Linked DNA regions of Homo sapiens: region 2 is linked to region 1. The links come from fine-mapping of genetic effects on gene expression. A gene starts in region 1. The other region holds a variant in brackets. All regions are shown on one strand. Distances are between the middles of the regions.

What was found. PIP is the estimated chance that this variant, and not a neighbour inherited with it, causes the effect. A credible set is the group of variants that fine-mapping cannot tell apart.
Region 2: its variant is the best candidate, but not a certain one, in a credible set for the expression of NINJ2 in monocytes (TOPMed, PIP 0.68).

What each region holds. Positions count from the first base shown.
Region 1 is chr12:660,733-666,108 of GRCh38, reverse strand. It overlaps NINJ2 (ninjurin 2), which reads left to right and starts at 2,664. Exons shown (of 4, transcript NM_016533.6): 1 at 2,664-2,781. The coding sequence starts at 2,749.
Region 2 is chr12:602,865-608,240 of GRCh38, reverse strand. All of the region lies in intron 1 of NINJ2 (ninjurin 2), which reads left to right. Among named protein-coding and RNA genes, the nearest start is that of NINJ2-AS1, 25 kb to the left of the region's middle. The variant A/C (reference allele first, on the strand shown) is at 2,831.

The DNA of each region.
Region 1 (5,376 bases):
TATTATTTAAAAGATAATGAGGATTTTCACAACAGGAGTGCAAAGAGAAATAAATAGTTAATATTTTGCTTCTGGCATCCGAAATAAGGTTTTCCAGAAAGTTTTTTTTTTTTTTTAAGACATGGTCTTGCTTTGTCAACTCAGGCTGGAGTACAGTGTCATGATCATAGCTCACTGCAGCCTTCAGCTCCCAGGCTCAAGCAATCCTCCCACCTCAGCCTCCCAAGTACCTGGGACTACAGGTGCTGCAAGCTGCCACATCTAGCTAAATTAAAAAAAAATTTTTTTTTTGTAGAGACAGGATCTCACTGTGTTTCCCAGGCTGGTCTTGAACCCCTGGGCTCAAGTGACCTCCTGCCTCTACTTCCCACAATGCTGGGATTACAGGTGTGAGCCACCATGTCCAGCCAAAAAGTTCTTCTACAGATGGGATCTCACTATGTTGCTCAAGCTGGTCTTGAACTCCTGGGCTCAAGAGATCCTCCGGCTTTGGCCTCCCGAAGTGCTGGGATCACAGGTATGAGCCATGCTGCCCAGCCAAGACAATATTTTTGACAACCAGGTTTTCTTGAGAGAGAGGATTTTCTAAATTTCTTCATTTCCCTTTGAATTGTTGTCATAGAGTTCTACATCAGATACATCCCAGCCAAACAGGAAAAAAAAAAAAAAAAAGAAGACAAAGCGTACATTTTCTGATTCTAGATTAAGGGGACTATGGGAAGAAGTAATCTCAGCTACTCGGGAGGCTGAGGCAGGAGAATCGTTTGAACCCAGGAGGCAGAAGTTGCAGTGAGCCGAGATGGCGCCACTGCACTCCAGCTTGTGCAACAGAGCGAGACTCCATCTCAAAAAAAAAAAAGTGCTTAGAATAGTGCTTGATACATAGTGGTATTATTATGAGCGGTGGGGTGATAGATATTACTGGTAGACTTTTTAAGGAGTGCTGAGAAGAGTGGGTTCCAGGTCTCATTTCCATTCAGGAATGTGGAAGGAGATCACCTCGCAGACTGCCCTGTGTCAGTTGGAGCAGCCACATCAGAGCAAACTCTGCTGGAAGTGGGGCTGAGCTTGCCTTTCCCCTGCCCTTCGTCAGCAGCCCTCAGTCCCCATGTGCCTAAGGGGGCTCAGGAGCACTGGTCAAGCATCTCACAGGAAAATTTCGAGGGGCTTATCTTAGAGATGTGGGCCACTGAGCGGATACAGTGGGATGGGGGCACATACAAGTCAAAGCCAGGTCTCAGGATGGTCCACATTGCCACGAGCCAAGGTAGCGCAGACAGCAAGGGAGAACACTGGATCTCAAAGGCAGAAAGAGAATCACCCATGAGTGACTCTGGCCTAATATCAGACATCAGCCACCAAGGCCAGCAGAAGACCCAGGAGCAGGACCTGTGTCTCCTCAGCAGTCAGCAATTCGGGCGGGCCCGTGGGCCCAGCAGCTCCAGAACAGAAAGGAGCCGAGATGGAGAGGCCACAGGATAGATGCAAGAACCGTCCCCACCCCGCCCTCCTGTGCACCTAGGTGCCATCTTCTGCAAATCCGAAAGACTGAGCATTGTGTCTAAAGTGGACTGTTTACCATTTAAATGATTAAATCCAACTATGCTTCATAGATTAGACTAAAATATGGCCCCCATCCAATCATCCAACCCTCCCTCGCACCACTGTCCAGAGGGATGGGAACTTATAAAGGCATTTCATAGAACTGAAGAAATCGCCTTTTTTTTTTTTTACATTTGAATGTGGTGAGGGTAAACGTGTTGACTCTGCCTGTCTTCCTCCTGCCCGCACCTCTTCAAGCCCTGAATTGGATTACAGGTTAACACCCTGCCATGCACGTCTACAGACATACCCACACCCACACCTGCACAAGCTTGTGTCTAAACCTTGCTTCAGGAACAAGCCAGAAGAGTTTTGGGCTCTAAGGTAAACAGGAGAGGAAAAAAAAAACTTTCTAAAAAAAGACTCCCTCCTGGTAATTTTATTTTAAAAGTAGGGAGAATACCACTGTTTGCATAAACAAGCTTCGAAGGTACAACTACTCCCTGCTCCCTCTATGGCTAATCAAGGGAGGAGTTGAAGGAATCAAACAATCCGTCAGTAAAAACGTATTGTTCACTCACTTTGCAGAACAAAGCCTATGCTTTGGAGCCTATTAGGTAAACTACAATTTTTTTAAAAACTTTTAGGGATATAGGGAACAAAGCAAAGAACAACGGAAATCCCTCTGCCTCAGTATTGAGACTGTGCTGGAGGTCACTCCACCCGTGGCGACTGGGGACTGGACCCAGCGGTGAAGTCAGATAGCGTTGTCCTCAGGCTGTTTTTCAATTTGCTTGATAAACATGCAGGATTTCTTTGCCAGTCATAAAGCTACTAGCTCAAAGCAGGCTGGGTGACCTCAGATGGCTCCGCTGGGACTGGAAGGTCACTGGAGCCACTGGTGAAAATGATGCTGTCACTACCAACTCAAAAGGTCACCTATCAGTGTGCCATGTGCCACCTCCTGGAGCACACACATGTGCACACACATACACTCACACGTGTGTGCAGGTGCACACCTCCCCCAGAGGCTGCAGCCAAGACGGGCATCCCACATCAGAGGGATGAATGGCAGGTCTGTCCCGCCAGCTGTGTGCTCTCTCCCACCCGAAGAAAGCAGCAGAGACTCAGACGGCGGAGCCTGGAGGAGCCCACGCAGTCTGTTCCCGGCACCCGGTGCGTGTGAAGGGACTTGAGGGCAGCGAGATGGAATCAGCAAGAGAAAACATCGACCTTCAAGTAAGTTCTCTCTGGAAGAGAGCAGAGGGGAGACCGGGAGTAGAGGTGAAGCTGGAAGAACAGAGGATTGATACTTTAGTCACTTGATATTCTCCCTCCCCGTTCTCTTCTTACTCACTCCCTTCTCCAAATGCTCCCTAGGCTTTGTCTCTTTATTTTCTCTTTCTCTCTGTTTCCCTATCTGGTTCTTCACTTGTTTTGAAATATCTGAAAAACAGATTGGTTAACTCCCTTTTGGCCTCTGCTTCCTCTTGTCAGTCAAAGAGCTAATTAGATCCGTATTACCAGAAAATGATTTCACATTCTGAGCAGTGCTTTCCCCAAACCCCAGGACAGTAGAGACTTCTCTTAGAGCTGCCGGGGAGACAGGAAATATATGAGTTTTGAGGCTAGGAAGAGAGGCAGCTGGCCAACTTTGCATTTTACAGGTTGGAAAAAACTTGAGCCGTTTCTCGGCTGTCTTCACAAAGCTCTACTGTGTAGGACAGAAAGCGTCTCATTTGGACAGTGCAAGGAAAGGAAATCAGTCTAATCTCCTAGGAAGAGGCAGAGATGTGTGTCCCTCTGTAGCTGGGATGGGCTTGGAAGGCATCAGAGGTTCCAGTCCACTGCTGGAGGGGAAAGGGTGGGATGTTACGGTGAGAGGAGAGCCAGATTGCTGGGAGCTGCACTCTGTGACTCCTTGCCAATGGATAGAATAGAACGAACCCTTCTATGACCACTGCTGAGGCTGTGTAACATTGCAGAGAATCAAACAAAGTGTGGAAAAGGACTTTTGAGATCAAGAATTTCTGATCCCTGAACCTGGTCCTCGAACAAAATCTTAAGCAGCCACCCAATATACACTTCGGATTAAAGAAGAGCTGTTTTGTTGAAGCAGAGTATGTGCACGCGTCTCTCTCTCTCTCTCTCTCTCTCGTTCTCTGTGTGTGTTTTGGGCAGGGTGGCGTGAGTCTGGCAGAGTCTCTGTCCTTGGCCCCTCCGCCCTTGAGACACCACCAGGGAACTGTAGGACTGCTTGGTGTGCTGTGTCAAAACCATTCACCTAGTACAACTGCATACCCAGTGCTGTTTTCCTGGATTGGCAGCCAGCCCCGAGAGCGGTCCCACCGCAAGGCTTGCTTGTCCCTCTGTCTGGAACCTTCTTTCCCTGGCTTATCTCCTGGCTGGCCCTTCCTAGTACATTCAGGTCTCAGCTCAAATGTTACTTCCCCCAGGAGCCCTCCCCTGACCAACCTCTTCACAGGATGCCTCCTCCCCAATTTGTCTTTATCATTTGTTTAATTTCTTTCATAGCACTGCTCACCACCTAAAGTTACACTGCTTATTTATTTAGTATGTATTGCCTGTCACTCTCACTAGGACACAAGATCTCTGAGGGCAGGGCCTCTCCTGTTTTATTCACTGCTGCAGCCCGAGTGCATGAGGCAACTCTTGGTACACGGTCATTGCTTTAGAAAACATTTGTTAAATGAATGAGTTGAGGAAGCCATGAGTTGGAGAGGCTCTGAGATAGGAATAAGGTCACCTAATTGGCCCAAGACCTCCAGTCCATGTCTTCTGTCCCTAGTATGTGTTTTCTTCTTACTTCTAGTTCTTGCCTCTATAAGATCCTTGGTTGTTAAGGAAATTGTGTTGCTGCTTATTTTCATTCTCAGAAGAGCAAGTTTCTTATGTGCTGATGGGTTGAACGATCCAGAGTTACAGGCTAAGGACTCTGCATCTGAACCAGAGGTTCAGAAGGAAAGAGGTGGTGGGAGGAAGGAGAAGGAAATGACTGGCTAGGCTGGATGAATGTCTCTCTCTAGCAGGTAACTGAGGTGTTAGTGTACCTTTCTCTTCATTTGTCATTCACTCTCTTCTAATATGCTATTTAATTCTTGTATCTTACATTTTCCTTTGCTCAGAAGGTTATCCATTATTTTCTACAATTTATTGTCCACCTTTGGCTGGGCACGGTGGCCTACGCCTGTAATCCTAGCATTTTGGAGGCTGAGGCAGGAGGATCACTTGAGCTCAAGAGCTAGAGATCAGCCTGGGCAACATAGCAAGACCCTATCTCTATTAAAAATTTAAAAGTAATTAGCTAGGCATGGTGGCATGCACCTGTAGTCCCCACTACTCGGGAGGCTGAGGTGGGAGGATTGTTTGAAGCCAGGAGTTCAAGGTTGCAGTGAGCTACAATCATGCCATTGCACTCCAGCCTGGGCGGCAGAGCCAGACCCTATCTCTAAAAACAAAACAATAACACTCTTTAGTTAAAACAATGTTTCCCCAAAATGTGGTACAATTATCACCAATGGGTGGTAAAGGTACATCAATGGCTGACAGCTTTTTATTATAATGTTTATTTTTACAGTTTTTTTTGAGATGGAGTCTCACTCTGTCGCCTAGGGTGGAGTGTAGTGGCAAAATCTCAGCTCACTGCAACCTCCGCCTCCTGGGTTCAAGTGATTCTCCTGCCTCAGCTTCCCAAGTAGCTGGGATTATAGGCATGTACCACCACACTTGGCTAATTTTCATATTTTTAGTAGAGACAGGGTTTCATCATATTGGCCAGGCTAGTCTTGCACTCCTGACCTCAAATGATCCACA
Region 2 (5,376 bases), 58 kb after region 1:
TTCCTAAAGATAGTCTAAAGGACTGGGGACTCTAGCATATAAATTCTTGGAGGGCTGGTGTGCTTGGTAAAGACTCTTAAGGGTTGAGTACAGTGCCACGTAATTGGTGGACAATTCGAAAACAATGACCGCTAGCTCCTAGGGAAGATCCAGACCTTGGATACTCATCCTCCATCCATCCACAGCACACCGAGGGCCCAGATGGAACACCAGCTCCTACAAGCGCACATTTCCTTTTAAGCCCCAGCTTCCATCAAATTGGCTTGCACTGGAAAGTCAACGGAACCCCCAGCACAAAGACGGTGGCTGATGGCCAAAGGACTGGAGCCAGGAAAACTATGTGACAGGCAACTTTGCTCCTGCCAAGAATGAGGACGTGATTTCCTATCTCCACCCCGCAGCAGGCCCCCAGCCTCCTCTCATCCCCATTCCCCTTCCACCCCCAGTCCTGTGGGCCACAGGTTTCTGCCTGAAAAAGCAATTTGGAGCTGCTCACACAGGATATCTCCTCCTGACCTACTTCCTGAGTGCTGGGGCAGAATGCTTGCTCTACTGAGAAAGGTGGCATTAGCTCAGCATTCCCCCAGCCAAGCATCATACCGGATCTGACTGTCAATCACTCACTCACAGCCAATGGCCACACCTGAGAAGGGTTTTCTTAATGGCTTTCCTATGTCAACACCTGGGCTGAGTAACCCAACAGGCTCCTGGAGTAGAGCTGAACCTGTTTCTTGGGATATTGCGCTTTCTGTCTTTTTGGTTGTGTGCTTGCTTTTGTAATTTGGTGCAAAGCCACCATTTGCCATGGTCCCAGGAACTCTTTCTGAGATTGTAATTCCGAAGTATTTCTACTCCAGTCGTCATCATCATCATCATCATCATCATCATCCCTTACAGAGTACCTACTATGTAGTCAAATATTTTACCTATTATCCCTAATATGCTCGCCACCCTACCTTGCAAGGTGGATATATCAGGACAGTGCTTCTCAGACTCTGATGTGGCTGTAAGTCACCTGGGAATCCTGCTAAAATGCAGATTCTGGTTGAGTAGATCTGGGGGAGGCCTGAGGTTCTGCATTTCCAGCAAGCTCCCAGGTTCTAATACCTTGAGTAGCAATATATCAGGAGAAATTTTTTGGTTGCAAGTGACTGAAATGCAATGTGAACTAGTTAAATAAGAAGTGGAATTTATTACAAGGGTATCTGGTGTCTCACAAAGCCAAAGGACAGGATTGCAGCCGGGCCTCCGGAAGAGTTGGGGCCGGGGATTCAAATGCCAGGAGGAACCTCTTGGTCTCCTGACTGCTTTCTCCATGCACCCAGTTCAAAGCGTCGTCCTCTCTCCCTCCCTTCTTTTGCTCCACTCTTTCTTCCTTTCCCCTCTGTTCTGCTTAGTGCCAAAGCAACTCGGCCCACAGTCCTGTGGGTTCCTTGTCTTCTTCCTTGATTTTGGTGGCGCACACCTTCCAGTAACTCCCTAAGAAAGTGAGCAAAGGAAGGACAATTTTTGTGGACTAACTTACCTAAACCGTCTTCCCGCAATTGCTAGTGGGTTGAGTATAGAATTGTAGCTTCTAGTGTGGCTGCTGTGACATCGAGTGCCATTTCACTCCTCTGTCCTCTGGAGCTCATGTCTGGAAGTTGTTAGATTCCTTCTGACCTCCAGTTCCAAAAGCTGACAATGATGTGGCTTGGGGTGAGTTGTTCCTCATTCATTATATAGGGCACTTGGTAAGTCCTTTTGACCCCAAAATTGATGTTTTCTGCTCTAGAAAAAACATCTGAATTGTTTATTTAATAATTTTTGCCTTTCTCTTTTCTTTGTTCAGCCCATCTTGAACTCTCAGTGTTAGGATGTTGGATCTTCTGATGTGATCCTTTAGTTTTGTCTTTTGTATCTAATTTTTTATCTCTATCATCTTTTTGTTCTACTTTCTATGAGATTTTATAAACGTTTCTCTATCTTAAGTTGAATTTTTAATTTTTATATTTTTAATTTCATATTTTTAGTTTCCAAGAGTTCTCTTTTCTTTGGTTTCCGAATATTCCTTTTTGAAATAGAATATTGGCTGGGCAAGGTGGCTCATGCCTGTAATCCCAGCACTTTGGGAGGCTGAGGCAGGCAGATGGCTTGAGGCCAGGAGTTCTAGACAAGCCTGGGCAACATCTCTATTAATAATTTTTAAAAATAATAAATAAACTAAAATAAGACACAGTTCTTATTACATTGATGGAATAGCTTCTCTTTTTTCTCTGCAGATGTTATTCTTTTCCTTTTTTGCACTTTTCTTCTGCTCCCTACATTCTCTCTGTCTCTTCTCTTATTTCTTTATTTTGGTCTCCATCTTTCATGTAGGCTTTCTGTGTATATTAAACAGTGAGGCACCAAAAAGCTTACTGGAAGGAGAGCTAAGTTGTGAAGGACAAAGTGGACCTTTTCATTGTACCTTTTGAATCTTTTGAGTTCCGAACCATATTAATATAGAACCCATTCGAAAAACAAACCCCAAAACCCCTCATCTTCCAGGTTATGTGAAGCTTTATCTGCATGGGTAGGGCTTGTTTGCTGGGGAGCTTCAATGCAGAAATGTAGGGTGGGTGTTAGCTTCTTTGCTGAGTGGACTCCAGATGTCAGTGTCTTAATGTTGTCTCTCTAGATTATGTCATCTCTTTTATTTTTTATTTTTGTCTTGCTCTGTCTCTCCGGCTGGAGCGCAGTGGTGCAATCACAGCTCACTGCAGCTTCGAACTCCTGGGCTCAAGCGATCCTCCGGCCTCAGCCTCCCAAATAGCTGGGACTACAGGCACATGCGCTATTCCCAGCCCCA[A/C]GGTAGTCTTTTCCGATAGGAATCATCTGGACTTCTGTCTGGGGATAGGTGTTGGGGAAGGGTATAAGCCTAGTTGCCAGTTTTCAGGAATGAAAGTGGGAGGACAGCTGGGTGTCCCAGTGTTCTGAATGCAGATTTTCAGCAGTTGCCTCAACCCTCTCCCCATGATGCACAGCCGAGCCTGCCAGCCTCTAGAGCAGCACTTTGCAGACTATCTGTGGGGAAGGCGGAGTTTTGAAACTCCCATTCTGTCAGGGACATGTACGTGGTCCTGCTGGGCATGAGTAGGCCGCATCTCACACGGCACATGCCTCACTCTGGGAGTTCAGACATCCAAACTGGCCTCTATCCTTCAGCCAGGAGAACCCACTGATCACACACTGAGTGCTGAGGCAACGTCAAATTTCCGTGAAAATCCTAAACACATATTCTTGCTTCCTGTACTTATCTTACTGGGGCCACTAACAGTTTGTGGACCTAAACCAGTTCCTGGACCACACCGCAAGAGCACTGCTCTGGAAAATAACAAACCTCTGGTCACTTGCCTTGGGGAGGATCTGTCAACAGGCTTTGAGGGGTGGTGAAGGAGTCGGAGGGTTGAACTGCTCTGTAAGTAGACTTTCAGCCCGTCCTCCATCTCAGGTCTGTACCTCGTCCCTACCTCCCTTGCACTTGTGTCCCCACACCCAGTGCCTTCCTGGATTCCTCGTATCCTGTTGGTTCCTTCCTGCAAGCATCAGGCTGTGGCTTTTTTTGCTATTGTTGTTGTTGTTGGGACTGAGTCTCGCTCTGTCGCCCAGGCTGGAGAGCAGTGGCGCCATCTCAGCTCACTGCAGCCTCCGCCTCCCAGGTTCAAGCGATTCTCGTGCCTCAGCCTCCCGAGTAGCTGGGATTACAGGTGCCCACCACCACGCCCGGCTAATTTTTGTATTTTTAGTAGAGACGGGGTTTCACCATGTTGACCAGGCTCGTCTCGAACTCCTGACCTCAAGTGATCCGCCCGCCTCAGCCTCCCAAAGTGCTGGGATTACAGGCGTGAGCCACCGCACCCGGCCAGGCTGTGGCCTCTATTGCTCGGCCAAGACATTCATTTACTACTCCTCGTTCTACTTATTTCCTCTTCCAGTCTATTTTGTCCTCGCAGCTTATACTTTAAAAAATCCCTTTACTGTTGTTAAGATAGCGATACTCCCCAAATTGGTCTACAGATTTAATGCGGTTCCCATCAAAACCCCAGCAGACTTTGCAGAGCTGATCCTAGAACTGTGCGGAATTTCAAGGAACCCAGAATAGCTCAAATGATCTTGAAAAAGAAGGCTGGAGGACTCACGCGTCCCAACAGGAAAACTTACTACAAAGCTACAGTAATCAAGTCAGTGTGATGCTGGCGTAAGGACAGACATATACACCAATTCTATGACGACTCAGCGGGGGAAAGAATGGTCTTTTTGGCCAGGCGCAGTGACTCATGCCTGTAGTCCCAGCACTTTGGGAGGCTGAGGCAGGCAGATCACTTGAGGTCAGGAGTTCGAAACCAGACTGGCCAAGATGGCAAAACCCCGTCTCTATTAAAAATACAAAAATTAGCCAGGTGTGATGGTGCGTGCCTGTAGTCCCAGCTACTCAGGGGGTTGAGGCAGGAGGATCACTTGAACCTGGGAGGCAGAGGTTGCACTGAGCCAAGATTGCACCACTATACTCCAGCCTGGGTGACAGGCTGAGACTCCGTCTCAAAAAAAAAAAGAAAAAGAATAGTCTTTTCAACAAATGGTGCTGGGATAACTGGATGTCCACATGGAAAAGAATAAAGTTGGACTCTTACCTCATACCATGTGCAAAAATTAATTCAAAATGGATCATAGACTTAAATGTAAAAGCTAAAATCTAAAATTCTTAGAACAAAATGTAAGTAAACCGTCATGCAGGAAAGCCTTCTTAGATATGACACCAAAAGCACTGTAACAGAGGAAAAATAAATTGGGCTTCATGAATATTAAAAAAGGTTGCGTTTCAAATGGCACCATCAAGGAAGTGAAAAGAGAATCCAGATAATGGGAGAGATATTTACAAATCATATATCTTATAAGGGACTTGTATACAGAATATATAAAGCACTCTTACAACTTTATAATAAAAAGACAAATAATCAAATTTTAGGGCAAATGAGCTGAATAAACATTTTTCCAAAGAAAATATACAAATGGCCAATAAGCACATGAAAAGATGTTTAACATCATTAGCCAGCAAGAAAATATAAACTCAAAACCGCAAACAGGCCCAGTGTGGTGGCTCATGCTTGAAATCCTAGCACTTTTGGAGGTGGAAGCAGAAGGATTGCTTGAGCCCAGTAGTTCAAGACCAGCCTGGGCAACATAGTGAGATCTCATCTCTACAAAAAAAAAAATTAAAAATTAGCTTGCATGGTGGCCATGTGCCTGTAGCTCTAACTAGTCAAGAGGTTGGGGTGGGAGGATCACTTGAGCTCAGGAGGTCCAGGCTTCAGTTAGCCATGATGGCACCACTGCACTCCAGCCTGGGCAACAGAG